4 linked regions of the Homo sapiens genome follow. The protein of the gene in region 4 interacts with the protein of the main gene of each other region in a biochemical or structural test. Each region holds a gene or a part of one and is shown on either strand. Other genes may lie near its edges. The genes, in order: RAD51, SHPRH, PARP10 and RAD18.

Region 1 (7,025 bases), on a different chromosome or scaffold from region 4:
GCTACTAGGAAGGCTGAGGTGGGAGAGTTGCTTGAACCCGGGAGGCAGAGGTTGCAGTGACCTGAGATCACGCCACCGCACTCTAGCCTGGGTGACAAGAGCGAGACTCCATCTGAAGAAAAAAAAAAAAAAGAATGCCTTTTTCTACTAAGGAAGTCATTCTTTTGAACCACACATACAACTTTGGGACGTGGGGTTATAGAAGAGACATTCTTCGGCCAAACTAACCCTGGCAATCACTACATTGATAAGTGTAGCCATAGTCTCTCTTATCTAAACCAGTAACCTACCTCTCAGCCACTGCCAGCAGCCGTTCTGGCCTAAAGGTACCCTCAGTGTCAATGTACATGGCCTTTCCTTCACCTCCACCCCGGTCAATGGGAAGCTATAGAGAACAAAAACAACAGTAGAAATGAACATTGTATTTCTGATACAGCTGACCAAGCTCCTCATGACATCTTTATAATTCCTCCAAGGCAAAGGGAAAAAAACATTTAAAAATGACAGTGGTAGGAAGGAGGCATTCCCTTCTGATATTAATAGAAATACAGCTAGAAAAATATGTAAAGCTGATTGTGTCTCAGTACATACAGCTAGTCCTGTCAGAACTGGACTGCTTAGAAATATAGCCCAAAGTAGGTAATAAAATTCTTTTCTTCTTTTTTTTTTTTTTCTTGCGATAGTCTCACTGTTGCCCAGGCTGGAGTGCAGTGGCGTTATCTCGGTTCACTGCAACCTCCACCTCCTGGGTTCAAGCAACTCTCCTGCCTCAGCCTCCTGAGTTGTTGAGATTAAAGGTCCATGCCACCACGCCCAGCTAATTTTTGTATTTTTAGTAGAAACAGGGTTTCACCAAGTTGGCTAGGCTGGTCTTGAACTCCTGACCTCAGGTGATCTGCCTGCCTTGGCCTCCCAAAGTGTTGGGATTATAGGCACGAGCCACTGCACCTGGCCTTTTTTTGTTTTGGAGACAGGGTCTCACTCCGCCGCCCAGGCTGGAGTGCAGTGGTGCAATCTTGGCTCACTGCAACCTCTGCCTTCCGGGCTCTGGAGATCCTCCCATCTCACCTCCCAAATAGCTGAGACCATAGGTGTGCACCACCACACCCGATTAAATTTTTTTATAGATAGGGTTTTGCCACATTGCCCAGGCTGGTCTTGAACTCCTGGACTCAAGTGATCTGCCCGCCTCGGCCTCTTAAAGTGCTGGGATTACAGGCGTGAGCCACCACACCTGGCCAGTAATAAAATTCTAGAACTGCATACCAACACAAGACTGATCAATTCAAAAGTACAGAAACTTGGAAGACCATTTACCTTAGCTTTAATCAATAATGGGCCATGATCCAAAGCCCAGTTAATTTTAGCATGTCTATATCAAACTTATACTTCACTTTATTGAGCAGTTCATTCTTTAGGGGTACTAAAGGGACTAGTCAATGCCCTCGGAGTGTCTATAGCAAATTTCGAGTGTGAGCAAGAAAGAAGAAAAAAACATATTTACTCCAATAGTATAAACAAGATGTTTAAAATGAACAATTGGAGAAAACAGAAAAATAAGTAGAAAGAATTTTAAAGAGAAAACAAAAAGGAAAGAAAAGAGAAGTAAATGAAATGCCATGAAAACTGTCTTATGAGCCACTCAAGGAAATCTCTGCTTTAGACTACCCATTCCATACCAGATACCTTTGAATTTTTCTACAAAGTTTAAGTGAATGATGCTAAAGGGTAATTTCTACTCTAGAAATCTACTTTGGAGTCATAATTCCCATTTAAATTATGAGGAAAATCCTTTAGAACATTTTATGTTAAAGGCCTAGGAGAACCAAATTTTTTCTTTCTTTTTTTTCTGAGACGGAGTTTCGCTCTTGTTGCCCAGGCTGGAGTGCAATGGCATGATCTTGCCTCACCACAACCTCTGCCTCCCGGGTTCAAGGGATTCTCCTCCCTCAGCCTCCCAAGTAGCTGGGATTTCAGGCATGCACCACCACGCCCGGCTAATTTTGCATTTTTTAGTAAAAATGGGGTTTCTCCACGTTGGTCAGGCTGGTCTTTAACTCCTGACCTAAGGTGATTCACCCACCTTGGCCTCCCAAAGTGCTGGGAGGCGTGAGCCACTGCACCCAGCCCAAATTTTCTTTCTTATCTTTGAGAATTTTTTTTTGAAATTACAAAACAACTATATGCTTATATTAAAAATCTAAACAATATAAAAGTAGAGGGCCGGAGGCCAGGCGCAGTGGCTAACGCCTGTAATCCCAGCACTTTGGGAGGCCGAAGCAGGTGGATCACCTGAGGTCAGGAGACCGAGACCATCCTGGCTAACATGGTAAAACCTTGTCTCTACTAAAAATACAAAAAATTAGCCGGGCGTGGTGGCGGCCACCTGTAGTCCCAACTACTTGGGAGGCTGAGGCAGGAGAATGGCGTGAACCTGGGAGGCAGAGCTTGCAGTGAGCCGAGATCGTGCCACTACACTCCAGCCTGGGTGACAGAGCGAGATTCCATCTCAAAAAAAAAAAAAAAAAAAAAGAAGTAGAGAGGCCAGGCATGGGGGCTCACACCTGTAATCCCAGCGAGTGGATCACCTGAGGTCAGGAGTTCGAGACCAGCCTGGCCAAAATGGTGAAACCCTGTCTCTACTAAAAATACAAAAATTAGTGGGGCGTGGTGGTGCACACCTGTAATCCCAGCTACTCGGGAGGCTGGGGCACAAGAATCACTTGAACCTGGGAGGCGGAGGGTGCAGTGAGCGATATCATGCCACTGCACTCCAGTTTGGGTGACAGAGTGAGACTTTGTCTAAAAAAAAAAAGAGGAAGTGGCGGAGAAAAAACTGAAAGCTCTTCACCACTCTCCATCTCCCAGAAATAATTTCCCAGATTATTTTCTATGCATTTTCATATACTTCTTTTATATAAGTGGTTCTTCCACTTACTATGTGACTGAGAATATTGTTTCCTTTTCTGTAAAATGTAAATAAAACCGACCTTATGGGATTGTTTTAAAAACTAAATAAAATAATTCATGTAAAGCGTTTAGCACGGTACACTCTGAAGACATGATTTTCCCAACCTTTAGGGCACTGACTTTAGTGTATACAGTTACGGAAGGCTTTGTTAATTTGGAAGGGAAAAATTACGTTACTATTTGGCAGATAAAATCTCTCACATCATGGGAATCCATGGAAGGAGCAAAGGACACATATACAACAAAAGAGGGTCATGCCTAAAGAAAGACTTGGAACCAGTGGCCAAGAGGACAGAGAGCAGAATCTGCCTCAGTTTCTTGGAGAGGAGGAAATATTAACACTCTGGGGACTAAGTCCCCAGGAAATAAGATGAACGAAGTTCTCCTTTCTCCTACCTCCAGGTAATATTAAGTGCTAACATGACAGGGGATTCTTTTCCAATTGAATAGACTTCCTTGGCAAAGGAAAGGCCACAGATGATTGGGAATAGGTAGGTAGACTGACAACAGGATAGTGGACAAGCTCCCAGGGTAAGATCATGGGGATGGATTGCATGCTCTGTTCTCCAGCTTATTTGGCCCTTTCTACCTTGCCCTCCCAGTGCCATCATAGCCATCTTCTGTTACTGGATTGGGATACCATCAGGTTAGCTCTTCTTAATAACTGCTTAGGAGCATAATTTAACACTTCTCATTTTATAGTGATGCAGTATGTTTCTAACTTTTACCATTTTAATTATGCTTTGGTATAAATTATTTGTACATTTATCTTTGCATATATGTGAAATGTTCTGTAAGACAAATTTTCTGTCAAAGGGTATGTGATTTTTTTGTTTTGTGGTTTTTTGGTTTTTGGTTTTTTTTTGAGACAGAATCTTACTCTGTTGCCCAGGCTGGAGTGCAGTGGCACGATCTCAGCTCACTGCAACCTCCACTTCCCAGGTTCAAGCAATTCTCTGCCTCAGCCTCCCAAGTAGCTGGGATTACAGGCGCCCACCCCCACGCCTGGCTAATTTTTGTATTTTTAGTAGAGACAGGGTTGCACCATCTTGGCCAGGCTGTTCTTGAACTCCTGACCTTGTGATCCATCCACCTCAGCCTCCCAAAGTGCTGGGATTACAGGCGTGAGCCACCATGCCCGCATGGGCATGTGCTTTTAAAACTGGTACTTATGTTAAATTGTCTTCTCAGAACTGTTTTTATTTTTTAATTGAAATGGGATCTCGCCATATTCCCCAGTCTTGTCTGGAACTCCTGGGTTCAAGCAATCCTCCGGCCTCAGCCTCCCAAAGTGCTGGAATTACAAGCATGAGCCACCATACCCGGCCCAGAATTTTAAAACTACTGCAGTACTTTGAACAAGCATGGGCTAATTCATTTTGTAACCTAACTGTAGCTCTCAACTTTATGACTTTTCTATTAGAGAGAGACCTAACATATAATGGGGTTTTACTTCATTAAATTGAGAAAACAAATGAGAGTAGATAATATTTAGATTTAAGTAATAGTCTAACATCCTCTCTATATCCCTGGTTCCAGCTCTTAGGCTGATGAAATGTAATCTTTTCTATTATTAATTAATTAGCATTCTTTTTCTTTAAAAAAAGTCAACGATCTATATAGTTGTTCAGCCATCTGTAAATGTTATTTTAACAGGCTATATTTACTTGAGAATTTTGCTTTAGTTTATTGTTGACAGACATTATCTGACTACTTAAACATTCTCAGATTAGGATTCTATTTGTACAACTTTGGAGTGTCAGCATGCTATGCTGAGTTGCCATGGCAACTATAGATATTATGTACTGTAGTCTAAATACTTATTCTACATAAGTCCCTGTCAAAACATGGGAAAACATTTCTATTTAAAAAGGTCACATATCATGTCAAATGACGGATGTAAGAGTGACATTTTAAACAGCCCTAATTCCCTTTAGCTATCAAATTTCTAATGGAGCTCACGCAATAGCTATAGCTTCTATAACTTACTCTTCCTCTTCTCAATGTTTCCTCCCTTATTATCATAAAAGGTCTCCTAAGCATCCTCCTCCACCCCTCCCCCTCAGCTCTTTCTTCCTAATGATTATGAGGATCTGGGTGCAGAGGCATTCACCTGTAATCCCAGCTATGTGGGAGGCTGAGGTTGGAGGATTGCTTGCGCTCAGGAGTTCAAGAACAGCCGGTGCAACATAGTGAGACCCAATCTCAAAAAAAAAAAAAAAAAAGAATTTATTTCTGAGGAGAGTTAACAATGGATTAGGTCTACTCGATACTGACATGCTAGCTTGGCTGTCTCATAAGACATATGGCAGCCAGCCAGGCACGGTGGCTCACACCTGTAATCCCAGCATTTTGAGAGACCAAGGTGGGCGGATCACAAGGTCAGGAGATCGAGACCATCCTGGCTAATACGGTGAAAACCTGTCTCTACTAAAAATACAAAAAATTAGCCAGGCGTGGTGGCGGGCGCCTGTAGTCCCAGCTACTCGGGAGGCTGAGGCAGGAAAATGGCGTGAACCCAGGAGGCGGAGCTTGCAGTGAGCAGAGATGGCACCACTGCACTCCAGCCCAGGCGACAGAATGAGACTCCGCCTCAAAAAAAAAAAAAAAAATTGTAACATTTTGGTCTGCAAAGAAAATATCAGTGGAGCAATAAACAATTAAAATGACAACAAAAAGCCGGGCATGGTGGCTCACACCTGTAATCCCAGCACTTTGGGAGGCTGAGGCGGGTGGATCACCTGAGGTCAGGAGTTCAAGACCAGCCTGGCCAACACAGCAAGACCTTGTCTCTACTAAAAATACAAAAAATTAGCTGTGTTGGGTGGCAGGCACCTGTAATCCCAGTTTGGGAGGCTGAGGCTGGAGAACTGCTTGAACCCAGGAGATGGAGGTTGCAGTGAGCCAAGATTGCGCCACTGCACTCCTGCCTAGGCGACAGAGACTCCGTCTCAAATAAAAAAAAAAAAAAAAAGGAAAATAAGAAAAATGGGAGGCTATCAAGCTAGGTTACTTGATGTTAAATTTAAATAAACTTGGGCCAGGCACGGTGGCTCACTCCTGTAATCCCAGCACTTTGGGAGGCCAAGGCGGGCAGATTAACTTGAGGTCAGGAGTTTGAGACCAGCCTGGCCAACATGGTGAAACCTCGTCTCTACTAAAAATACAAAAATTAGCTGGACGTGGTGGCCGTCATGCCTGTAATCCCAGCTATTCGGGAGGCTGAGGCAGGAGAATGGCTTGAACCTGGGAGGCAGAGGTTGCAGCAAGCCAAGATCACACCACTGCACTACAGCCTGGGCAACAGAGCAAGACTCTTTCTCAAAAAAAAAAAAAAAAAAAGAAAAGAAAAGAAAAAAAAACTCAACAGAGTTGAGTCCCGAGGATAGAAAAACACTAGGAAGCCTCTTCTGTAACACTGATATAAGGCAGATTTTGTTTCAGTTGTTTTGATCTCCAACAGTAAGTTGTGCCCATGGCAGAAGTGGGTATAATCTATCTAGATTAAAATAATGCCATGTTTTTCAAAATAACTAAAATTATAATAAAGCTTCAAAAGATTATAACAGAAGAGTTGGTCCATGGGCATGGGCCAGGTTCAAGGATACTTTGTGGACTGGCCACTTATGCAGCACATCCTTAAAGCCAGAGAACATTAAGACTCACTTAGACAAGGAAAAACGGCTCCCCATTACACTGCCTGAAGTTGCAGAAAAGATGAAAGTTTGTTAGCTTTCTCTTCTATATCCTACTCCCTTCCTTTCTCATGGATCTTTCGTTTCCAGATTCCATTTTTACTTCTCTGTGTGACTTAGTTCCACATCTCTCAATACAGCTAGAAATTTTCACTCGGGGTTTGTCACCTCAAACCTGTCATCTCTAAACCTGTACTCATGTTTCCAACAAAACTGTCTTCCCCTCTCAAACACTTTTTAGGTTTACTAAGTTACTGTAATACATTGTTGGGCTGAGGTGTATTTTTTATTGTCAGTCATCAAGCGCTGCCCTTTACAACATCTTTTCCCTACTTCTCTTTATTGTCACTATCTTAGTTT
Region 2 (7,025 bases), on a different chromosome or scaffold from region 4:
CTGCACCCTGGAATTTTTTAGGGATTCTAAAAAATAAAGGGAGTAGTGCCTGGGCCCTTCTCCAAGACATTCTGACTTAGTTGGCTCGACATCAGGATTTTTTTAAGTTCCCCTGGTGATTCTAATGTGCAGTCAAGTTTGAGAAGCACTAATCTGTGGTCCCCCATCCTGCGACATTACAGTTTGGTTATTGTGAAATGTGGTTTAGAGCAGGGGTCCCCACCCCTCAGGCCATGGACCGGTGCCAGTCCGTGGCCTGTTAGAACCGGGCTGCATTGCAGGAGGTGAGTTGCGGGCAAGCGAGCATTACCACCTGAGCTGTGCCTCCTGTCAGATCAACAGTCAGTAGATTACCATAAGAGCATGAATGCTATCGTGAACTGCATATGCGCAGGATCTAGGTTGTGCACTTCTTATTAAAACCTAATGCCTGATGATCTAAGGTGGAATAGTTTCATCCCTAAACAACCCCCTCTCCACTCCACCCCTCTCCTCCGGTCCATGGAAAACTTGTCTTCCATGAAACCCATTTATGGTACCAAAAAGGTTGGGAACTGCTGGTTTAGAGTGTTCTCAGGATGATGATAAGTAGCAACTACCATTTATGGAATACAGGCCAAATTTCTAGTACTGCTGTTGTACTTAAATTATTTCTAACCACAATCCTGCTATCATCCCCATTTTAGAGATGAGAAAATTGGCACAGAAGACTGGATAACTATTCCAATGCCACACAGTCAGTAAATGCCAAAGCTGGAATTAGAATGAATATAAGACTTCAAAGCATTGCATTCTCACCTTTAAGCCACATCGCTTTGCTAATGTGAGACTCTGCTAGACAGTTGCTTTTTGGGTTTTCAGAGTTAATGATTCCACAATAACCATGTTATTAATATTATTATGGTTAGTGTGATACATTGTGTAACTGGCCCAATTCCCTTCCAACACTCCCTCTACCCTTCCACCCCCCATATCCATGCTCTTTGCCATGTGCAGTTTCACCTAGTAAAGAGGTGTAGTATATTTCTTCACCACTTGACATTGGGTCCATGGATATGTCTTGCTTTGGTCTGTGGCACCTTAGTGGTTTTTAAGCACTTTGAAAACTACTTGTGTGATTGGATTTGCAGTAATACACCTCAACCATTGCCATAAAGAACATTCCTGAGTTACTTTGCTGATCCAAGGAGAGGGGATAGGAACTACATTAAGCAGAGCCAAACTGCTTTTCCAGAAACCTAGCCTAGATTAGCCTCCTTCAGCTAATGTGCAGATCTATGAGAATAAATGATTGCTATATCAAGGTATTGAGCTTTGAGGTAGTGTGTTACACAGCATGTTTGTGGCAGTAGTTAACTGATAAGCTACTATAGCATAACTTTTTAAAGTTCCTGCAGAGTGACCCACTTTCAGTATTCCAGCTTATGCTTTGAGGAAAACTGGACAAACATAAACACTTAGGAAATTAAGAGCTTTCTATATTATTCCACTAAGATAAGAGAGGATAAGATGCTTTAAAAGTAGTTGACCATAGCCAAGGATTGATTTTAATCCATCACCTGCACATTCATAAGTGAAGCACGGGCTAAGGGAATAGAATTCTCATGATTGACTTAAACAAGCACTGTCTGATACATAGACTTTTTGCAATTATGTGAATGCTCTATATTTGTGCTGTCCAGTACAGTAGCCACTAGTCACATAGCGCTACTGAGCACATGGGGCTAGTGAGACTGAAGAGCTGAGTTTATAACATTTAATTTTATTTATAGTCATGCATCACTTAATGATGGGGCTGTGTTTTGAGGAATGCATCATAGGCAAGTTTGTTGTGTGAACATCTTAAGAGTATACTTACACAAACCTAGGTGGTACCGCCAGCCTACTACACACCTAGGCTCTATGGTACAGCCTGCTGCTCCTAGGCTACAAACCTGTACAGTATATTCGGTACTGGATACTGTAGGCAGTTGTCACACCGTAGTATTTGTATATTTAAACATATTTAAATATAGAAAATGTACAATAAAGATATGGTATAAAAGATAAAAAATAGTACACCTTTGTGGGGTACTTAGCATGAATGCAGCTTATAACACTGAAGGTTGCTCTGGGTTAGTCAGGGAGTGAATGTGAAGGCCTGGGACATTACTGTACACTTCTGTAGACTTTGTAAACACTGTACACTTATGCTACACAAAGTTTATTAAAAAATAAAGTAATGCGGCTAGGCGCGGTGGCTCACGCCTGTAGTCCCAGCACTTTGGGAGGCTGAGGCATGCAGATCTTGAGTTCAGGAGTTCAAAACCATCCTGGCTAACACATGAAACCCCGTCTCTACTAAAAATACAAAAAAAAAGTTAGCTGGGCATAGTGGCAGGCGCCTGTAGTCCCAGCTACTCAGGAGGCTGAGGCAGGAGAATGGCATGAACCCAGGAGGTGGAGCTTGCAGTGAGCAGAGATCACGCCACTGCACTCCAGCTGGGCAACAGAGTGAGTCTCTATCTCAATAAATAAATAAATAAATAAATGCATTATGATGTTACAATGGCTATGATGTCACTAGTCCATAGGAATTTTTCAGCTCCCTTATGGAACCACTGTAATATTTGGTCCCTCATTGACCAAAATGTCATTATACAATGCATAACTGTATTGAAAGTTAAGTAGTCACATGCAGCCAATAACTACCTTATTGGATTTGCTTTGGCCAATAGTAGCTAGAAACTACTTCCTTGGAGGTGCCAAGGAAATCACTTCCTTTGAATCATAGGGCCACCTTGTTCCTAAATAAAGGTTCAGTCATCAGGGAAGGAGGATAGACCTTAGGCAGGTAAATAATGTCACTTTAGTTTCTTTTATGGTTATTGGTCTATTCATATTTTCCTTCTTGGGCCAGTTTTGTTCATTTGTATTTTGTTAGCAAAATTTTATCACTTTATAATTTATCATTTTATCTAGATTTTTCAGATTTATTGAATAAAGTTATACTTAATATTAAAATTTCTAAATCTCGTGCATCTTTTTGTTTTTGCTCTTTAAATCAACTTTATGATATAATTTATGTATAAGAAAATTCAATTTAAAGTATATAATTTGATGAGTTTTGACAGATGTATACTCTGCAATCATGTGTTGAACATTTATGTCACCCCAAAGCCTGCCTTCCTGCTCCTTTACTGTCAGTCACCTCTTTATACTTCCTTGCCCCTGGTAACCACTCATCTACTTTCTGCAATCAGGTTTTTGCCATTTCTAGAATTTCATGTAAATGGAATCATATAGTATATAGTCTTTCACATCTAGCTTTCTTCAGTTTAGCATAATGCTTTAACAGTTCATTCAGGTTATTTTACAGAAGTCTCTTTTTATCACAGAATAGTATTCCATTGTGTGACTATGCCACAATTTGTCCATTCACCAGTTGATGGACATTTGGGTTTTCTTCCAGTTTGGGGCTTTTAATAGTAAAGCTGTTAACATTCAAGTTTAAATTTTTGTGGATTTATGTTTTGATTTCTCTTGGATAAATACCTAAGAGAGGGATTACTAGGCTGCATAGTAAGTTATATTCAATTTTATTAGAAACTGATACTTTTCCAAAGTGACTGTGCTGTGTTCAAATGTTGGAGAGTTCAGTTCTGTTTGAGCCATACTCTCAGTGTTTTAAATTTTTGACTATTTTAGTATATGAATAGTGGCATCTCATTGTGATTTGTGGGTTGAATTTGTATTGCTTTAATGACTGATGCTGGTGAAAATATTTTCATATGCTTATTTTACACTTATAGGTCATCTTTGGTGAAATGTCTATTCAAAATTTTTGACTTTTTTAAATGTTTGTCTTACTATTAATTTGTGAGAGTTCTTTATATATTCTGCAAACATATCCTTCATCAGATACTTGATTTGCTAATATTTTCTCCCATCTGTGACTTGCTGTCATATTTTGATGACAGTATCTTTTGAAGAACCAAAATATTTAATTTTGATGAAACTTAGTTTATCATATTCTTACATAGTCTATGGTTTTTGTTTCCTGCTTAAAAATTTTTGTGCCTTTTTTTTGGGCTAATCCAATGTCATTTAGGTTTTCTCCTCTGTTTTCTTTGAGAAGTTTTAGTTTTAGCTTTTATAGTTTATTATCTATTTTTAGTTAATTCTTACATTTTAGGAGGTAAAGCTTCATTTCATTGCATATTGGTATCCATTTACTAAAAGGATACCTTTCCCATTGACTGCCTCTGAACTTCTTTCAAAAATCAATTGACCATCCATGTGTGGGTCCACTACAGGACATTTCCCTTGATCTATATGTTGGTCTTTACACCACTACTGCACCATTTTTATTTCTTTTGACATATGTCTTGGAATCAGTGTAAGTCATTCAACTTTATTTTTCTTTTCTAAAATTATATTGACTTTCCTGTATTGTAGGCATTTTAGTATAAATTTTAACATCAGGTTGTCAGTTTCTACAGAACAAACCTGTTGGAATTTTGAATGGGATTGCTTTTCTATAGGTCAGTACTAAGAAATTGACATCTGAACATTTTGAGTCTTCTAGTCCATGAACATAGTACACTGTATAGATCTCTGATTATACTGTTATACTATTTTCTAAATTTTTATGTATGCTTGAAAATTTTCAGAATGAAAGTATAGTAAGTTATCTTTTACAGAAATTTAAAAATCAAGAAAAAAGTTTACTATATTTATACACATATTTTTTGTTTTTGCTTTTTATTTCCTTGTGTGTGGATCCAGATTTCCATCTGATGTCATATTTCTTCTACCCAAGCGCTTCTTACATTACTTAGATTGTAGGTATACAGGTGATAAGTCCTTTTGGCTTTTGTTGATCTTTTTTTCACCTTCATTTTTGAAAGATATTTTGCTGGGTTTAGAGCTGTGGGGTGGGAGCAGTGTCTAAACCAGAGAAATAGGGCCAATCTGGAGAGAAGTCCTCACTTTTCAGTAATTTAATTATGGCATACCTTATTGTGATTGTTCTTTATGTTTGCCCTGATTGGGTTTCATTGAGCTTCTTGGTTTTCTGAGTTGATGGTTTTTATAGAAGTTGGAAAATTTTCATGCATGATTTTTTCAAAAAGTTTTTTGTATCCTTTCCATTCTTTGCTGCTGAGATTCCAGTTTTATGCATGTTTGACTCCTTAACATTGTCTAGTAGGTTTCTGATGTTCTATTTATTGTTTTTTCAGTCTTTGTTTATCTCTACTTCATTTTTGACAGTTTCTGTTGTTACTGTTGTTTCCATTGTTTAAGCTTATTCTGCTTCTTTTTTTCTTTGCCATTTCTAATCTGCTGGTAATCTCATACAATGTGTTTTTCGTTTTAGATGTTGCATTTCCATCTGCATAAATTCTATAGGAGTCACTTGTATATCTATCATTTTTCTTTGTCATATTCATGTTTTCCTCTACCTTTAACATATTGAGAATATTTACAGTAGCTGTTTGAATGTTTGTTTCTGCTAATTATATCATCTGTGTCTTTTCTGGGGCTTTTTGATTTTTTTCTTGTAATGGGTCTTATTTTTCTGTTTTATTTTCATTTTTTTTGCGTGCCTGATAATTTTAGATTTGATGCCAGACATTTGTGTTGGATTTTGTTTCGCTCTTTTAAGTATTGTTGGGCTTTGTTCTGAGGGGCAGTTAAATTACTTGGGATTGAGAGATTTACCTTCCTATTATATTGCTTATTAAATGTATTTCTACAATTTATTTTATTTTATACAACAAATTGCCTTTACTATTAAAGACTAGCAAAACCATTAGAATTTATTTGATAAATGAGATTATGGTTAATATGTTCATTCCTTAGTCATAATGACCTGGTAAAAAAATTACTCATTGCCTTATATCTCACAGAAGATTTCATATTATGTTTATGGGCTATGAATTTATGCTGAATTTCTCATCTGGTAACCCTTAAATACTAAATCATCTCTTGTTATACCTCCTGTTGTTTCATTTGTCCTCTAGAGTTCACAGTTACCAGCCAAGAAAACTTGAAAATGAGCAGCCGACGGAAACGTGCTCCTCCAGTGAGGGTAGATGAGGAAAAGAGGCAGCAGCTTCATTGGAATATGCATGAGGACAGAAGGAATGAACCTATCATCATAAGTGATGATGACGAGCAGCCCTGCCCAGGTTCAGATACCTCTTCTGCTCATTATATCATTCTAAGTGATAGTCTAAAGGAAGAAGTGGCTCACAGAGATAAGAAGAGGTGTTCAAAAGTGGTGAGCTTCTCAAAACCAATTGAAAAAGAAGAGACTGTTGGTATTTTTTCCCCTTTGTCTGTAAAGTTAAATATTGTGATTTCTCCCTATCATTTTGATAATTCCTGGAAAGCATTTCTAGGAGAATTAACTCTTCAGCTTCTTCCTGCACAGAGTTTAATTGAAAATTTTTCCGAAAGGAGTATTACATTGATGAGTTCAGAGTCAAGCAATCAGTTCCTGATTTATGTTCATTCAAAAGGTGAAGATGTAGAGAAACAAAAAAAAGAACCGATGAGTATTTGTGACAAGGGTATTCTGGTGGAGTCATCCTTCAGTGGTGAAATGTTAGAAGATTTGGGGTGGCTACAAAAGAAGAGAAGAATAAAACTCTATCAGAAACCAGAAGGAAATCACATTATCAAGGTACTCAGTTTTTTGTGGTGTCTTTTTTGAGGCTCTTCTACATTGGCAGTCCAATTTTAAATTAACTTGTGAGAGAAGTCTGAAAAGCCAGCAATAAGCCTTTCATTGTTAAGTTTCAAAGTACACTTTAAGCTTTTAATAACTATTCAAAGTATGTTACAACTAATCATTTTCAGGCTACACTTTTTCAAGATCTTCCATCTCTACTTTCAGTGACTTGTTTTGGTCCTCATCATCAGTTCCTCTTACTGCAGCAGTCATTTAACCATTTATCTGTTTGCTATTTTGCCTTTTCAAATGCTTCGATTTTGTCTCTGGAATTGTATGATTGAATGCAAATGAAATTCTACCCATT
Region 3 (7,523 bases), on a different chromosome or scaffold from region 4:
CGGGCGAGGGGACGACCGCCAGCCTCGGGATTTGGGGCTTGGGTCGTTTCTCACAAGCAACCGGAGGCCTGCGCCGCTGCCGGCGTCTCCCGGGTGGGAGCTCAGCGCGGAGGCTGGGGTCTCGGCCGGGGACGTGTGGGGTGTGCCCGGACCCTCCCCTCCGCATCCCGCCCCTTAAGCAGCTTTAAGGGGCCGGAGCCGGCGGCTATTTCTATCCCAGGAAATCCCCGGGCCATCTGTGACCAACAAAGGCCCGAGCCCCCCCACCCCCGCGAGCCCAACAACAGGGCCCAACGGCCCCTGGCTCCGGGGTGGGGGGATCGGGCCTGGATCGGCTGCCGGTGCCTGCCAGTGGGGTACGCCGGGAACAGCGGGGTGCGGGGGTGTGTGGGGGATGGAAGCGACCACGGGGCGTGCGGGGAACAAAGCGGGCGTGGGGCGAGGCGGGTAGGGGCTGCGGCCGTGGCACTGGCACCGAGAGCGGATGGGCCCTCCGCGGGCCGGGGGCGCACAGGGTCACGGGTCCAGCAGTCGCCGCAGCGCGCCGCCCCCTCCCTCCGGCTCCAGGCCGCCGCGGCTCCCCGCCCCCACCACCGCCGCCACCTCTGGCCGCGAGCTGCCGCGCGCCCCGGCCGGACCAACTTACTGACCCGAGGCGGCCACGCTCGGATGCGCAAGATCCGCGTGGGGGCGGGGGCGGGGGCGGCAGGCCGCGCGGCGCAGCGGGTCAGAGGCGCTCCTGGGCTCGGGCCGGGGACTCACCGGTGGCCGGGCGCCGCAGGCCGGTACGCACGGTGTCCGCTGCGCGGCCGCGCGGTGATGGCCGATGCGCCCGCACCCGCACCCGCTCGGCGGCCGCTCAGCTGGGCCTGCGCCTGCGGCTCGGAAGACGCAGCGGGGCCTTGTGACGGGGCGGGGCAGGGGGCGGGGCCGGGCGAGCTTCGGGGTGGGAGGGGCAGGTGGGCGGGGCTTCCGCGGACCCCTCCCGCTGCGCCGCCTTGCGTGTTCCTCTTCGCTCCGGCCAGAGGCCCGCCTCTCACTGTCTGCCGAGGGGTGGGGTCGGGCGGTGGGCGCTGAAGACCCCTGGAGGCAGAAGTCTGGTCTGGCCAATTTGACTGGCCGTTCGGTAGTTAAGAAATTTATTCCTAAATGCGGGATTTGCTGAAGCTGCCCGGGACTGACCGTCCGTTCTCGGCCTTAAAACCCGACGTTCACTTCTTTTCATCCAGATCTCTCCCAAATCAAGAAGCCTAATCCTTTAGTTCCCAAATCGAGGCCTCGTGGTTTAATTGCCCCATTTGCTCTGTCAGCCCAAACTCTGCCAGGCCTGCTACTAGAGACCCTTTTTTATTTTTTTAATTCTTGTGGATACATAGTAGGTGTATATTTACGGGCTACATGGGATGTTTTGATACAGGCATGCCATGGATAATAATCACATCAAGGTAAATGGGGTATCCATCAGCTCAGGCATTTTGTCCTTCGTGTTACAAACAATCCAGTTATACTCTTGGAGTTGTTTTAAAATGTACAATTATTCTTGACCACAGTCACCCTTTGTACTAACAAATACGATGTCTTGTTTTCACACTAGAGACCCTGAACGCTCGCTTGTCTGCCTAACGTCCTCACAAGCTGCGAGGGGCTGAGGCTTGGGGATGCAGCAGGACTGGAGGCCAGGCCACCTCCCTGCTTAGCTCCCAAGTCCTCTTGGGGGAGCAGTGACTGACACAGGCAGGGTACATCCTGCTGCCAGCCTTCCCACCCGGGGCCCAGACCCCACCTGCCCTCCCGCCCTTGGAGGGCCGGCCTCTCCCAGGCCGCTCTGAGTCCTGCACCTATGGTGCGCTGGCGCAGTGTTTAGCAGCCGGACCTAGTGAGGGGAAGCCTGGGGTGCGTGTTTTGCACATGCGCGTGGTGTGAATACTCCACCGGGGCTGGTTTCAAGTTACCCCCAGCTGGACAACCAGTCCACAGAAATTCCCGAAACTGTACCAGTCTGCTTGTGGTGTGAGTGGTGCCTGTGGCAGGCCCTCTGCAGCCAGGGTCGGCGTAATGGATAACCTGTGATGAGTTCCATTAGAGAAAACGTGGAAAAAGCAGGGATGGATTTACCCTTGTAGAAGGTAACTTCTACCTTTGTAGAAGCAGAAGCTCACAAAATTTGAGAGACCTTTAAGAAAAATAAAATGCTTGCTGGGCGCGGTGGCTTACGCCTGTAATCCCAGCACTTTGGGAGGCCGAGGCGGGTGGATCACAAGGTCAGGAGATGGAGACCATCCTGGCTAACACGGTGAAACCCCGTCTCTACTAAAAATACAAAAAAAAATTAGCTGGGCGTGGTGGTGTGCACCTGTAATCCCAGCTATTGGGGGGGCTGAGGCAGGAGAATGGCTTGAACCTGGGAGGCAGAGGTTACAGTGAGCTGAGATCGTGCCACCGCACTCCAGCCTGCGTAACAGAGTGTGACTCTGTCTCAAAAAATAAATAAATAAGTAAATAAAAATAAAATAGCTGGGTATGGTGGCTGGCACCAGTAATCCCAGCACTTTGGGAGGCTGAGGCAGGTGGATCATCTGAGGTCAGGAGTTTGAGACCAGTCTGCCCAATAGGGTGAAACCCTGTCTCTGCTAAAAATACAAAAATTAGCTGGGCATGGTGGTGCGTGCCTGTAATCCCAGCTACTTGGGAGGCTTAGGCAGGAGAATCCCTTGAACCCAGTGGGTGGACGTTGCAGTGAGCCGAGATCACGGCACTTCACTCCAGCCTGGGTGAAAGGGCGAAACTCCGTCTCAGAAAAAAAAAAAAAAAAGGCAGAGTAAGGGAGATCATGCCAGAGGGGTGGCCATGGGGGTTTGTGGGGAAGGTAGGGCCAAGCAGAGGGAAGGGCCAGTCCCAGGCTACTGAGGCAGGAGTGGCCTGTAGCTCTGCAGGAAGAGCTGAGAGCCTGGAGCCCTCTGAGCATCAGGGTGTGCAGGGGGCATGGGGCCAGAGAAGGGACTGAGGTCTGGTCAGGTGCAGCTGGGCAGGGGGCAGGTCCTCAAAAGGACTTTGGGTTTTTGTTTTTTTTTTAGACAGAGTCTCACTCTATCACCTTGGTTGGAGTGCAGTGGCACGATCTCAGCTCACTGCAACCTCCACCTCCCAGGTTCAAGCTATTCTCCTGACTCAGCCTCCTGAGTAGCTGAGATTATAGGCACCTGCCACCATGCCCGGCTAATTTTTATATTTTTAGTAGAGACAGGGTTTTACCATGTTGGCCAGGCTGATCTCAAACTCCTGACCTCGTGATCCACCTGCCTCAGTCTCCCAAAGTGCTGGGATTACAGGCATGAGCCACTGCGCCCGGCCCCCAGGACTTTGGTTTCTACTGTTGCTGATGCTGGGAGCTGTAGCAGCTGCTGGTGTCATTTTACAAGGCTCACCCTGACACCTCTGTTGAGGACCCACCATGGGAGTGGCAGACAGAGACTAGTTAAGAGGTTAGCCTAGCTACCTAGCGAGAGATGCTGGAGGCTGGGACCAGGGTCGGGGCAGCAGAGGTGTGGCATGTGCAGGGCTAGGAGTGCAGGCTGGCCAGGGTCCTCAGCTCCCTGGAGGGAGGAACAGCAGGGGTGGGGCTGGGTTTTGGTGGGCTGAGGGGTGAGTGGGAAGTAGGAGATGGAGAGTGGTAGTGGCCACAGCTCTTTGAAAGGCTGGAAGCAAACGGAGCTTGGGTGATGTGGGAGATCTGTGGCGAGTGGGAGTGTGGACTCTGAAGGCACCGCCCAGGTTTGAGGCCTGGTGCTGCTATGGGCCTGTCTGCACCTCCGTTTCCCTTTCTGTGGTGAGGATTAGCGGCAGCAAGGAATGCAGTGGAGCCATTACCTTGTCACCTTCTGAGGTTACTTGTGACGATGCCAATGATGGTGTGAGATGGGGAGGTGCAGGCAGGACAGAAAGCTGCAGGAATGGGCAGGCAAGACCTGAGGCGGGAGGAAGGCTGTGCTGCAATGCACATTCTTGGAGACCAAGGGTGGGGAACCGCCCATGCTCAGCACCTGGCAGGTGTGAGGGACCAGGAGCAGGGTTGAGAAGGTTGCTGGGGGCGTTGAAGGCCAGCCTTGGCCGGGGGCGGGCCTGGAGACCCAGCACTTTGTGTGCAGAGGGTGTCATGGACACAGAGGCTTGGAGATCCTGAGTGAGGGGCAGTGACTCAGGCCCCTTGGTGGGTTTAGTGGGGCGGGTGATTGGCCATTTTCAGGCCATGGAGGCCAGGGGAGTGGAGGGCCACCAGGGGACACTCCTGTCTACCCTGCCAACCAGGGGCTGGAGTGGGCCAGGTAGGGCCGGTGGGCTGGGCTGGGTTGGCTGGAGGGTCCTGAGGGGTCCAGCCTGGCCAATACCTCCTGGTCAGCTGGGGGTTGAGGCTGCAGCAGGAGAGGAAGCATCTGAGCCCCAGTACCCAGGCCTCAGCGCCCAGGGCCCAGCTGCTCCCTCCCTCCTTCCGTCTTTCAGTTTCACTTTTGTTTTCCTGCTCCCAGCAGGGTTAGGCTTGCTGAGGGGCAGGCACAGGAGTCCTGGCTGAGCTCATGGCCTGAGGCTGCCTAGCGGCCACGGGGAATGTAAGTGCTGTATGTGGGGCCACCCATAATGGGGGAGCATTGAGGACACACCTTGGAGGGGCCTGGGGAGGGGCAGGAGGGGTGGAATGGGCTGTTTCCCTACCCACCTGATGCCCCGTCCCAGGGTTGCAATGGCGGAGGCAGAGGCAGGGGTGGCAGTGGAGGTCCGTGGACTGCCCCCTGCCGTGCCCGACGAGCTGCTCACTCTCTACTTTGAAAACCGCCGACGCTCTGGAGGGGGACCTGTGTTGAGCTGGCAGAGACTGGGCTGTGGGGGCGTCCTCACCTTCAGAGAGCCTGCAGGTGAGAGGGCTGGCTGAAGGGACAGCCTGGGTGCCCTGATATTCTAATGCCTGACATCCTGCCCCGCCCCTGCCCACAGACGCCGAGAGGGTCTTGGCCCAGGCAGATCACGAACTACATGGTGCCCAGCTGAGCCTGCGGCCAGCTCCACCACGAGCCCCTGCACGCCTGCTGCTCCAAGGACTGCCCCCTGGCACCACGCCCCAGCGCTTGGAGCAGCATGTCCAGGCCTTGCTGCGGGCCTCGGGGCTCCCAGTACAGCCTTGCTGTGCCTTGGCCAGCCCCCGGCCAGACCGGGCTCTGGTCCAGTTGCCCAAGCCCCTTTCTGAGGCAGGTGAGAGGCAGGGTTGGGGTTGAGGTGCTGGCTAGGGGGGATTCCCTGAGCTGACCTGCACATACCCCACAGATGTCCGTGTCCTGGAGGAGCAGGCCCAGAATCTGGGCCTGGAGGGGACCTTGGTGTCCCTGGCCCGGGTTCCCCAGGCCCGAGCGGTGCGTGTGGTGGGGGATGGTGCCTCTGTGGACCTGCTGTTGCTGGAGTTGTACCTGGAGAATGAGCGCCGCAGTGGTGGGGGGCCCCTGGAGGACCTGCAACGCCTACCCGGGCCCCTGGGCACTGTTGCCTCCTTCCAGCAGTGGCAAGGTGAGTGGGGCTGGGCAGACCCAGCCGACCGTCCCTCTCCTGCAGAAATCTGACAGGCTTTCTGTCCTTTCCCTTCCTCCAAGTGGCAGAACGAGTGTTGCAGCAGGAGCACCGGTTGCAGGGCTCAGAGCTGAGCCTTGTCCCCCACTACGACATCCTGGAGCCCGAGGAGCTGGCTGAGAACACCAGTGGAGGGGACCACCCGTCCACCCAGGGGCCTAGGGCTACCAAGCATGCTCTCCTGAGGACCGGAGGGTTGGTGACGGCTCTGCAGGGTGCAGGGACTGTGACAATGGGCTCTGGCGAGGAACCAGGGCAGTCAGGGGCCTCTCTGAGGACAGGTCCCATGGTGCAGGGTAGAGGGATTATGACAACAGGCTCTGGCCAGGAACCAGGGCAGTCAGGGACCTCTCTGAGGACAGGTCCCATGGGGTCTCTGGGACAGGCAGAGCAAGTCAGCTCGATGCCCATGGGGTCTCTGGAACATGAGGGGCTGGTAAGCCTGAGGCCTGTGGGGTTGCAGGAACAGGAGGGGCCCATGAGCCTGGGGCCTGTGGGGTCTGCAGGCCCAGTGGAGACCTCTAAGGGGTTGCTGGGGCAGGAGGGCCTGGTGGAAATTGCCATGGACTCACCAGAGCAAGAGGGGCTGGTGGGTCCCATGGAGATCACCATGGGGTCTCTGGAGAAGGCAGGGCCTGTGAGCCCAGGATGTGTGAAGCTGGCAGGGCAGGAGGGCCTGGTGGAGATGGTGCTATTGATGGAGCCAGGGGCGATGCGCTTCCTGCAGCTCTACCATGAGGACCTTCTTGCGGGCCTGGGAGACGTCGCTCTCTTGCCACTTGAAGGACCGGATATGACTGGCTTTCGGGTGAGTGACCCCTCAGGACTCCTCACCTTCAGCCCCCTCCTCCTACTGGGGACTCAAAGTACCTTTCCTGTGCTCTAAACCTGCAAACTCCATCTCTGCAATGGCCCTGCAGCTCTGTGGAGCCCAGGCTTCCTGCCAGGCGGCTGAGGAGTTTCTGCGGAGCCTGCTGGGCAGCATTAGCTGCCATGTGTTGTGCCTGGAGCACCCGGGCAGCGCCAGGTTTCTCCTGGGCCCAGAAGGGCAGCACCTTCTCCAGGGGCTGGAGGCTCAGTTCCAGTGTGTCTTTGGGACAGAGCGCCTGGCCACAGCCACGTTGGACACAGGCCTTGAAGAGGTAGAGATGGAGTCCCACCCCTGCCCTCCCCTTTCTCACGCCTCTGCCCCAGGCCTCCTCTGCCCTTGCCCAGAGGCTAGTGGTCCTGACATCCTCTCCCTACAGGTGGACCCTACCGAGGCCCTCCCAGTGCTCCCTGGCAACGCCCACACCCTGTGGACCCCAGACAGTACAGGTGGTGACCAGGAGGACGTGAGCCTGGGTAGGGCTCCCTGGGAGCCCTCAGCACATCCTGTGGCCCTCACTTGACCTCACCCCCTGCCCTGCTCTGTGCTCCCATCTGTCTACTGACCCATCTTAGGCCCACCCTGTACCCTAAAAACTTGCTCCCCATCTTTCATCCATTCCAACTCCTCCTGGGTCCAGCCCCTGACCCAATGGCCTCTCCCTGCCCCCAGAGGAGGTCCGAGAACTGCTGGCCACCCTGGAGGGCCTAGACCTAGACGGGGAGGACTGGCTGCCTCGGGAGCTGGAGGAGGAAGGGCCTCAGGAGCAGCCAGAGGAGGAGGTGACCCCAGGGCATGAGGAGGAGGAGCCTGTGGCCCCCAGCACTGTGGCACCCAGGTGGCTGGAGGAGGAGGCCGCTCTGCAGCTGGCCCTCCACCGGTCACTGGAGCCTCAAGGTCAGGTGGCTGAGCAGGAGGAGGCTGCTGCCCTGCGGCAAGCCCTAACCCTCTCCCTGCTGGAGCAGCCCCCGTTGGAGGCAGAAGAGCCCCCAGATGGGGGGACTGATGGCAAGGCCCAGCTGGTGGTGCACTCGGCCTTTGAGCA
Region 4 (7,025 bases):
GCCCAACATTAGTTTCACTAGAAGTTTTCATACATGTACCATACACATAAAAATATTGTAATTAGGAGCATTCTTTCCTGAATGTCTTTGCTGTGCCTGTCAATATTCATGTATAGGAATCCAACTATTTTCTTCCTTGTGCGTCACAATTTAGTGTTTTCTCTTTTTGCGTTAAAAGATAATTTTCAAAAACAACTAACATCATTCTCATATGGATGTAAAATGAACATGTGTTTTTATTAAAGATTTAAACTCATTAGTAGAGAGAAGACTGATATTATGAGGTGATCAAAGAAGGAGCCAAAGAATCATCACATTTACAGATGAGGAACATTGAAATGAATGTATAATGAGCAAAAAACTGGCTTCTTCCACATTGGAGGAGGAAAGTCAATTGAACCTCCACCCAACAGGATTTTGCATATCTATAGACAAGAATTATTTTCCATTGCTCTCAGTTATCTACAACATACAGAGTTATACCATAGCTCAAAGGCAGTGAATGGCTGGAATCTTGGGAGAGTAGATTTAGACAATGCCATAGTTCAACTGAAGCACAATTTTTTCCCTACACCCAGTAAATTCCCTATGCCTTAGTATTATGCTAAGGAAAATGGAAGAAACCAAGTGATAACAAGTACATTGTTGATTTTTGTATGAAAACAGTGTCAAAATTTTGTTTTAACCATTTGTAGTATGGTTCTCCCTAAAAATTTTATAGGATTTATGACATTACTTTGGACTGTGGCCTAAGTATTTAACGTTGCTAGATAAGTAAACTGTGACCTCAGCTGCATGGTTCAGAATCACAAATACATGCCCTAAAGTCCATACAGTAATGATGACTGGCTGCTCTTTATTGAACAGATTGGTACATTAATAATGATGATCTTGAGGTCAGGGTTAATTATATTCAAAGGTGTTAAAATGGTAGTAAATAAAGATTAGAGTTAGTATAGTATCGTAAGATAAGGTAGAATTGGTTGGGAGAGATCTTAGAATCTTAAAGGGGCTCTACTGGGAAACCGGCCGGAAATGTGAAGAAAAAAAGGAGAGCTGGAGTAGACGGACATTCCTTTGTTATGATGATTCAACTTTCCTAGAAGCTTCTATTTTAGATTCAGCAAATACTCTTAGTTCTCTTGTATCTTGGAAGTTAGAATGGTATCATTTGTATATATTTAAGAAAGCGGGCATCTTTCATGCTCTTATGATTATGTAAAAGCCTTTCTAGAGAATGGAGTTTGGGAAGAAACCTAGAGTAGCTAACTAGGAATATCATGTTTCCATATTTGTATTTGAGGAAGGGAGAAGATAAAAAGAAGGTTCCATGACACTCCAGCCCTTTGTATTCTTATGCTTGGCAGCTTTTAAATTTATTGCAAGTGATTCCTAAGGATGCTGTTCTTGAGCAAGCTTGTACACCTCTGTTTTTTGTTTTTTGTTTTTTTTTTTTGAGACAGAGTCTTGCCCTGTTGCCCAGGCTGGAGTGCAGTGGTGCAATCTCGGGTCACTGAAACCTCTGCCTCCCAGGTTCAAGTGACTCTTGTGCCTCAGCCTCCTAAGTAGCTGGGATTATAGGCACACAATACCACACCTGGCTAATTTTTTTGTACTTTTAGTAGAGATAGGGTTTCACCATGTTGGCCAGGCTGGTCTCGAACTCCTGACAAATGGTCCACCTACTTCGGCCTCCCAAAGTGCTGGGATTACAGGCATGTGATACCACACCTGGCTAATTTTTTTTGTATTTTTAGTAGAGATGGGGTTTCACCATGCTGGCCACGCTGGTTTCGAACTCCTGACAAGTGATCCATTCACTTCAGGCTCCTGAAGTGCTGGGATTACAGGCGTAAGCCACCATGCCCATCCCTTGTACACCTCTTGATATTCAGTTTGTCAGTTGTAGATGGTTAACTTTCATAGTCCTAGCTTTACTGAGAAGATCTTTTGAATTTCAGGTAAAAAACATAAGAGTGAATTTCAGCTTCTGGTGGATCAGGCTAGAAAAGGATACAAGAAAATTGCTGGAATGTCACAAAAAACAGTAACAATAACAAAAGAAGATGAATCTACAGAAAAGCTATCTTCTGTATGCATGGGTAAGAGACTATAATTAAAAACAGACATATGTCGAATTTCATTATTTACTTTTAATATGAAAAAATTAAACCAAAGAAATTTACTTTGGAGTTCTTAGTTCTTTGAAATGAGAAAAAGTATTTTTAGACAAACTTCATGTAGCAGTTTGTAAACTAGATTTATTACTATGGGGAAAGTGGTTGGAAGAATGTCCTGAAGAAACAATCTCTTTTTGTCTATCGTCCTTTCAGTTAATGATAAATCATAAATTTCTTTGTTATTTAAGCTTCAGGATGTTTTCTAGATATAGAATTTATTGGTGGAGATCCTGTAAAGAGAGTGAATTATTTTTGTGATAGAACACTGGTGTTTACTTTGGATGAAATGTTCTGCCAAACAGTCTAAAGTTAACATACCTGGTAGGCTAATACAGAGCACGTTCCTTAACTTTGATCCATTTTAAAATTTGAAATTGATATTTTAATTCTATTGCCTGGGCTTTGGACCAGTGAACAAAAAAGAATCATAATGGGGGAAAGTGCGCAAGAAAATTGCTTATTATGTTTTTCTATATTGTGGTAAAATATACATAACACAATGTTTATCTTTTTAACCCTTCATAAATGTACAAGTCATTGGCATTAAGTACATTCACAATATTGTGTAACTATCACCACTGTCTATATCCAAAACATTTTCATCATTCCCAGCACAAACTTTGCACTCATGAAATAGCAACTCTTCCGTCCCCTCTGCCTCATAGCCCTGGTAATAACAATTCCACTTTCTGTGTCTATGAGTTTGCCCATTCCAGGTACCTCATATAAATGGAATTGTATAATATTTGTCTTTGTGTGTTGGCTTCTTTCTCTAAGCATAATGTTTTCAGAGTCCTTCAATGTTGTAGCACATTTTAAAATTTTAAAATATTTTAAAATTTTTGATTAAACAGTATTCCATAGTATGTATATGTCATATTTTGTTTATCCATTTATCTGCTATGGTTATTTCCACCTTTTGGTTCTTATAAATAATGCTGCTATGAGCATTGGTGGTCAGATATTTAAGTTTCAGCTTAGAGTGCGATTTCTGATTCATATGCTGGTTCTATGTTTAGAACCTTTTGAGGAATCGTTAAACTTTTCCATAGTGGCTGCATTATCTTACATTCCCACCAGCGAAGCATGAGGGTTCCAATTTCTTCACATCCTCATCAATGCTTGTTATTTTCTGATTTTTAAATTTTTTAAAAATTGTAGATGTGAAGTGGTATGTCATTGTGGTTTTGATTTGCATTTCCCTAGTGACTAATAAACAATTTGTGCATAAAGTGCTGCCTCAGTATGTAACTCATGGTCATTGAACAACTCGAACTTGTTCATGCAGTTGTTAAAGGATATTTCTAGAAACTAGTTTAGCACTTGAGAAAATCTGACTGAATATTTCCCATTAAGAAAAGTTTTTTTAATTAGTTGAACCTCTCTTGAATATCATTGATGGCTTGTATGTATTTATGAACATCAATATTACTCTTTCCGGGGTTCAGAGGTGATTGCTGCTTTTAGATTGCTGTGCATGAATGAGATGTCTGAGAGGGTAAGGTATGTGAGAGAGATGAAGACAGACACAGACTGACTGAAAAGATGGATTTTGTATAGCATCATACAACCAATATAATTGTTGCTCTTTAGAACATTGAAGTGCTCATGTAAGTGAACAAGTTGCATATTCTCTCAAGTGAAAACTTAGCCTGTTTTTGTTGTGTGTCTCTGGGGAGCTCTGATGTCTGAGCCTCACTCTTCGGGGCTCTATTTTGGAGTCCTGCATTCTGAGATCTAAGGGCAAGTAGGAAGGATAACTTATTTTTTATGCCCACAGATTATTGAATGCTGTTTGTTCCCAAGAGGGAATATATCTTCTAGAAGTGTATGTAAGAGTGGAAGAAGTAAGAAAAGAATACAGACAATGTGCAAAAATAAAAGATTGTTTTAAGTTGAATTCCTGTTCCCTGGTTTGCTAGCTTGCTTGCATGCACCTCACTAGTTGAGTAATATAGTCCCTGGGTGAACCGAGTTGACTGGGGGATTGGCTCCTCTTAATGTGATTCTGGTATCTGTTTACAAGAGGAGTTCCTAGAGGTTCAGGATGGTCATCCTGGCTAAATTCTTTTTCCCTTTTCCAGATATACATTAGAGGGTGCTGTTTTGTTTTGCTAATGATAGTTTATTGACAGCCAGATGACATTAGGAGCATATTTTTAGGAATTACACTCTTGTGAAGTATGCTGTTCTCTCAGTGTAACAAAAACTTAGAACTATTTCTGAAAAAAATTTAACTGTATGAACTTGGCAAGGTTTTTTGAAGAATTTGTTATGTTCTTTCCCCATAAATTCTCTCTGTATAATCAAACCTTGACAATTGTATTTTTAGTGTGCTTTGTTGAAGACCACTTGCCTCTACAAGTGCTTGATGAGTGATGTGTGAAAGCTCTGTTTCTCTGTGAGGAAACACATGAAAGGAGCTCTGTAGTATTATTAGCACATGTAGCTTGCATGTGAGGTACCTCCTCAGTTCCTGAAAGTTAAGGACAGCACAGATGAAAATCCCAGCAGCGTTCATGATGAGTGGGAGAATCCTGGGCACTAAAGAATCTTTCACAGATATTCTTCCACTCATATTTGTAGAAAATTGGCCATACCCATATGCCACATTTTTGTAAACACTGCATCCTTCCAGCTTTTTGGGGTCTTTATTTTTATCTGCAATAAGAGACCTTGAAATCTGAGAATATGACAAAGAATGCACGGAAATGTGATGTGTATTGGATCAAATGGAAATATTCCTTATGTCTGTTTAGTTGTCCTTTTCCATAGAGAATAATTAGATTCTAGTTAACCTAGAAAAATGTTTAGAAAAATGTCCAGATAGATTCACTATCATATAATAGTAGCAAATATTGTGGTTGTCTTATTAGTTGAATCTGTAGTCTTTTTTTGGTTATACTTCTTATGTTGGTTTGTCAGTGTTCTCTGATCTATGAAATATGCAAGAATTCCTTAGTGATATGTTAATAGAGGCCTCATTAGAATTACAAGATTCTTCCTGCTTCTGGTTTTAAAATAAATTTTATTTTTAAACTAATTAATCTTGGAAAAACATGGGCTGGACAGTATAATTAGATAGCACCATTGTAGTGTTAATTCTTGCTCTCTGGCTGTCACTAGAGTTCTGGAATCTATGTGACATATACTTCAACTTTACTAAGTGCACATGGCAGTATTAAGTGTTGCAGAAGTAATAGGCATACAGAAGTTGTAGATTTTAAGGTACTCTTAAATTTATTTTTTCCTAGGACAGGAAGATAATATGACCTCAGTAACAAACCACTTTTCTCAATCAAAGCTGGACTCCCCAGAGGAATTGGAACCTGACAGAGAAGAGGATTCTTCTAGCTGTATTGATATTCAAGAAGTTCTTTCTTCATCAGAATCAGATTCATGCAATAGGTAAGAAACATGCAGTAGTTGATTATTTTAAATATCTACTTCATATGCACATGTAGATAGATAGGCAGAAATAATTAGAATGTAGCTTTGAGGCATGGCATGGTGTGTCACTCTTACATTTCAGTCCCCTTTTACTGCTGGGTCTTCTTCACAGTGATAACAAGGCAGGATTTGGGAAGGTAGTGCAGGGATCACAGGGTGAGTTTGGTCTCTACTCTATAGCCTTTATGTAGATACTTTTCCTACCGTTGGAAAAGAAAGCATGATAGACAGTGAAATTTTTGTCAAGACGATGAGTAAAGGAGATAAAAACAACTATATTGGAAAACAGAAATGATCAGAAAGACATGGCGCATAGGAGGGTTAAGAAATGAAAAATTTAACTGAGTAAATAGAATAGATGGGGAAACTTTAAAAATGAGAAGTTTGGTAATGAGTCATTTTGAAAAGATATTTTAAAAAATATATAGGGTTTATTTTACACACACACACACACACACACACACACACACGCATGCACACACACATACCAGTTTTTGTTCCGGTCTTTCACTTAATGTTATGTCATAAATGTTACGTTTCTATAGGTTGGCACAAAAGTAATTGAAACCACAGTTACTTTTGCACCAACATAATAGCTTATGTTTATAATTGTTATTTTTTAATGAGTACAGTATTCTGTTATGTCTCTGCGCTATAATTTACCAGACCCTTCAGTTTCTGTTAGAGCTCTACATTTTTCCCAGTGTTCTACTTATGTACCTGATGCTATGGTAAAGCTCTTCCTTTGTTTCTATTGAATACTTTTTTTTTCATTTTTTTGAGACGGAGTCTCACTCTGTTGCCCAGCCTGGAGTGCGGTGGTGCGATTTCGGCTCACTGCAACCTCCACCTCCCAGGTTCAAGCATTTCTCCTACCTCAGCTTCCCAAGTGGCTGGGATTACAGGCCTGTGCCACCACGCCTGGCTAATTTTTTTTTTTGTACATTTAGTAGAGACAGGGTTTCACCGTGTTGGCCAGGCTGGTCTCAAACTCCTGACCTCAAGTGATCCACCCACCTCGGCCTCCCAAAGTGCTGGAATTACAGGCATGAGCCACCGTACCTGGCCACTTATCTTTATTATTCTGATATGTAGGCATTGCCCTCTGAATGAATTGTACTGATTTAAAATGCCTACCTATCAGAATCATTGCTTATTGCCAGTGTTATTTAATGACGCTGAAACTTAGTCAAGAGAGACACCCATTTGATTCTGGTAACTGATACCATAGAAATCAGGAAAAGATTCAAACTTAGAAGGGACTACCAGTCAAGACCAAATTCCTTTAGTAGCATCATACTATGTGGTATTTATTTATCTGGTCCAACTGGGCGTTCTCAGGGTGGGGTTAATGAGTATATTACATAGATTTGGCCTTGCTGTGCTGAAGACATG

What was found.
Region 1: the proteins of RAD18 (region 4) and RAD51 form a complex in vitro, tested with the Homo sapiens proteins (one study listed by BioGRID).
Region 2: the proteins of RAD18 (region 4) and SHPRH form a complex in vitro, tested with the Homo sapiens proteins (one study listed by BioGRID).
Region 3: of the proteins of RAD18 (region 4) and PARP10, one has a biochemical effect on the other in vitro, tested with the Homo sapiens proteins (one study listed by BioGRID).

What each region holds. Positions count from the first base shown.
Region 1 is NC_000015.10:40,712,165-40,719,189, reverse strand, and holds part of RAD51 (DNA repair protein RAD51 homolog 1), read right to left. Parts: intron 386-7,025; coding exon 291-385; intron 1-290.
Region 2 is NC_000006.12:145,954,335-145,961,359, reverse strand, and holds part of SHPRH (E3 ubiquitin-protein ligase SHPRH), read left to right. Parts: intron 1-6,005; 5' UTR 6,006-6,037; coding exon 6,038-6,670; intron 6,671-7,025. UniProt on the Homo sapiens protein: E3 ubiquitin-protein ligase involved in DNA repair.
Region 3 is NC_000008.11:143,983,439-143,990,961, reverse strand, and holds the start of PARP10 (protein mono-ADP-ribosyltransferase PARP10), read left to right. Parts: upstream 1-4,501; 5' UTR 4,502-4,602; coding exon 4,603-4,604; exon of another isoform or gene 4,605-4,690; coding exon of another isoform or gene 4,691-4,728; coding exon 4,729-4,907; intron 4,908-4,986; coding exon 4,987-5,241; intron 5,242-5,313; coding exon 5,314-5,550; intron 5,551-5,633; coding exon 5,634-6,418; intron 6,419-6,530; coding exon 6,531-6,752; intron 6,753-6,857; coding exon 6,858-6,954; intron 6,955-7,150; coding exon 7,151-7,523. UniProt on the Homo sapiens protein: ADP-ribosyltransferase that mediates mono-ADP-ribosylation of glutamate and aspartate residues on target proteins. In contrast to PARP1 and PARP2, it is not able to mediate poly-ADP-ribosylation.
Region 4 is NC_000003.12:8,897,457-8,904,481, reverse strand, and holds part of RAD18 (E3 ubiquitin-protein ligase RAD18), read left to right. Parts: intron 1-1,961; coding exon 1,962-2,102; intron 2,103-5,434; coding exon 5,435-5,588; intron 5,589-7,025. UniProt on the Homo sapiens protein: E3 ubiquitin-protein ligase involved in postreplication repair of UV-damaged DNA. Postreplication repair functions in gap-filling of a daughter strand on replication of damaged DNA.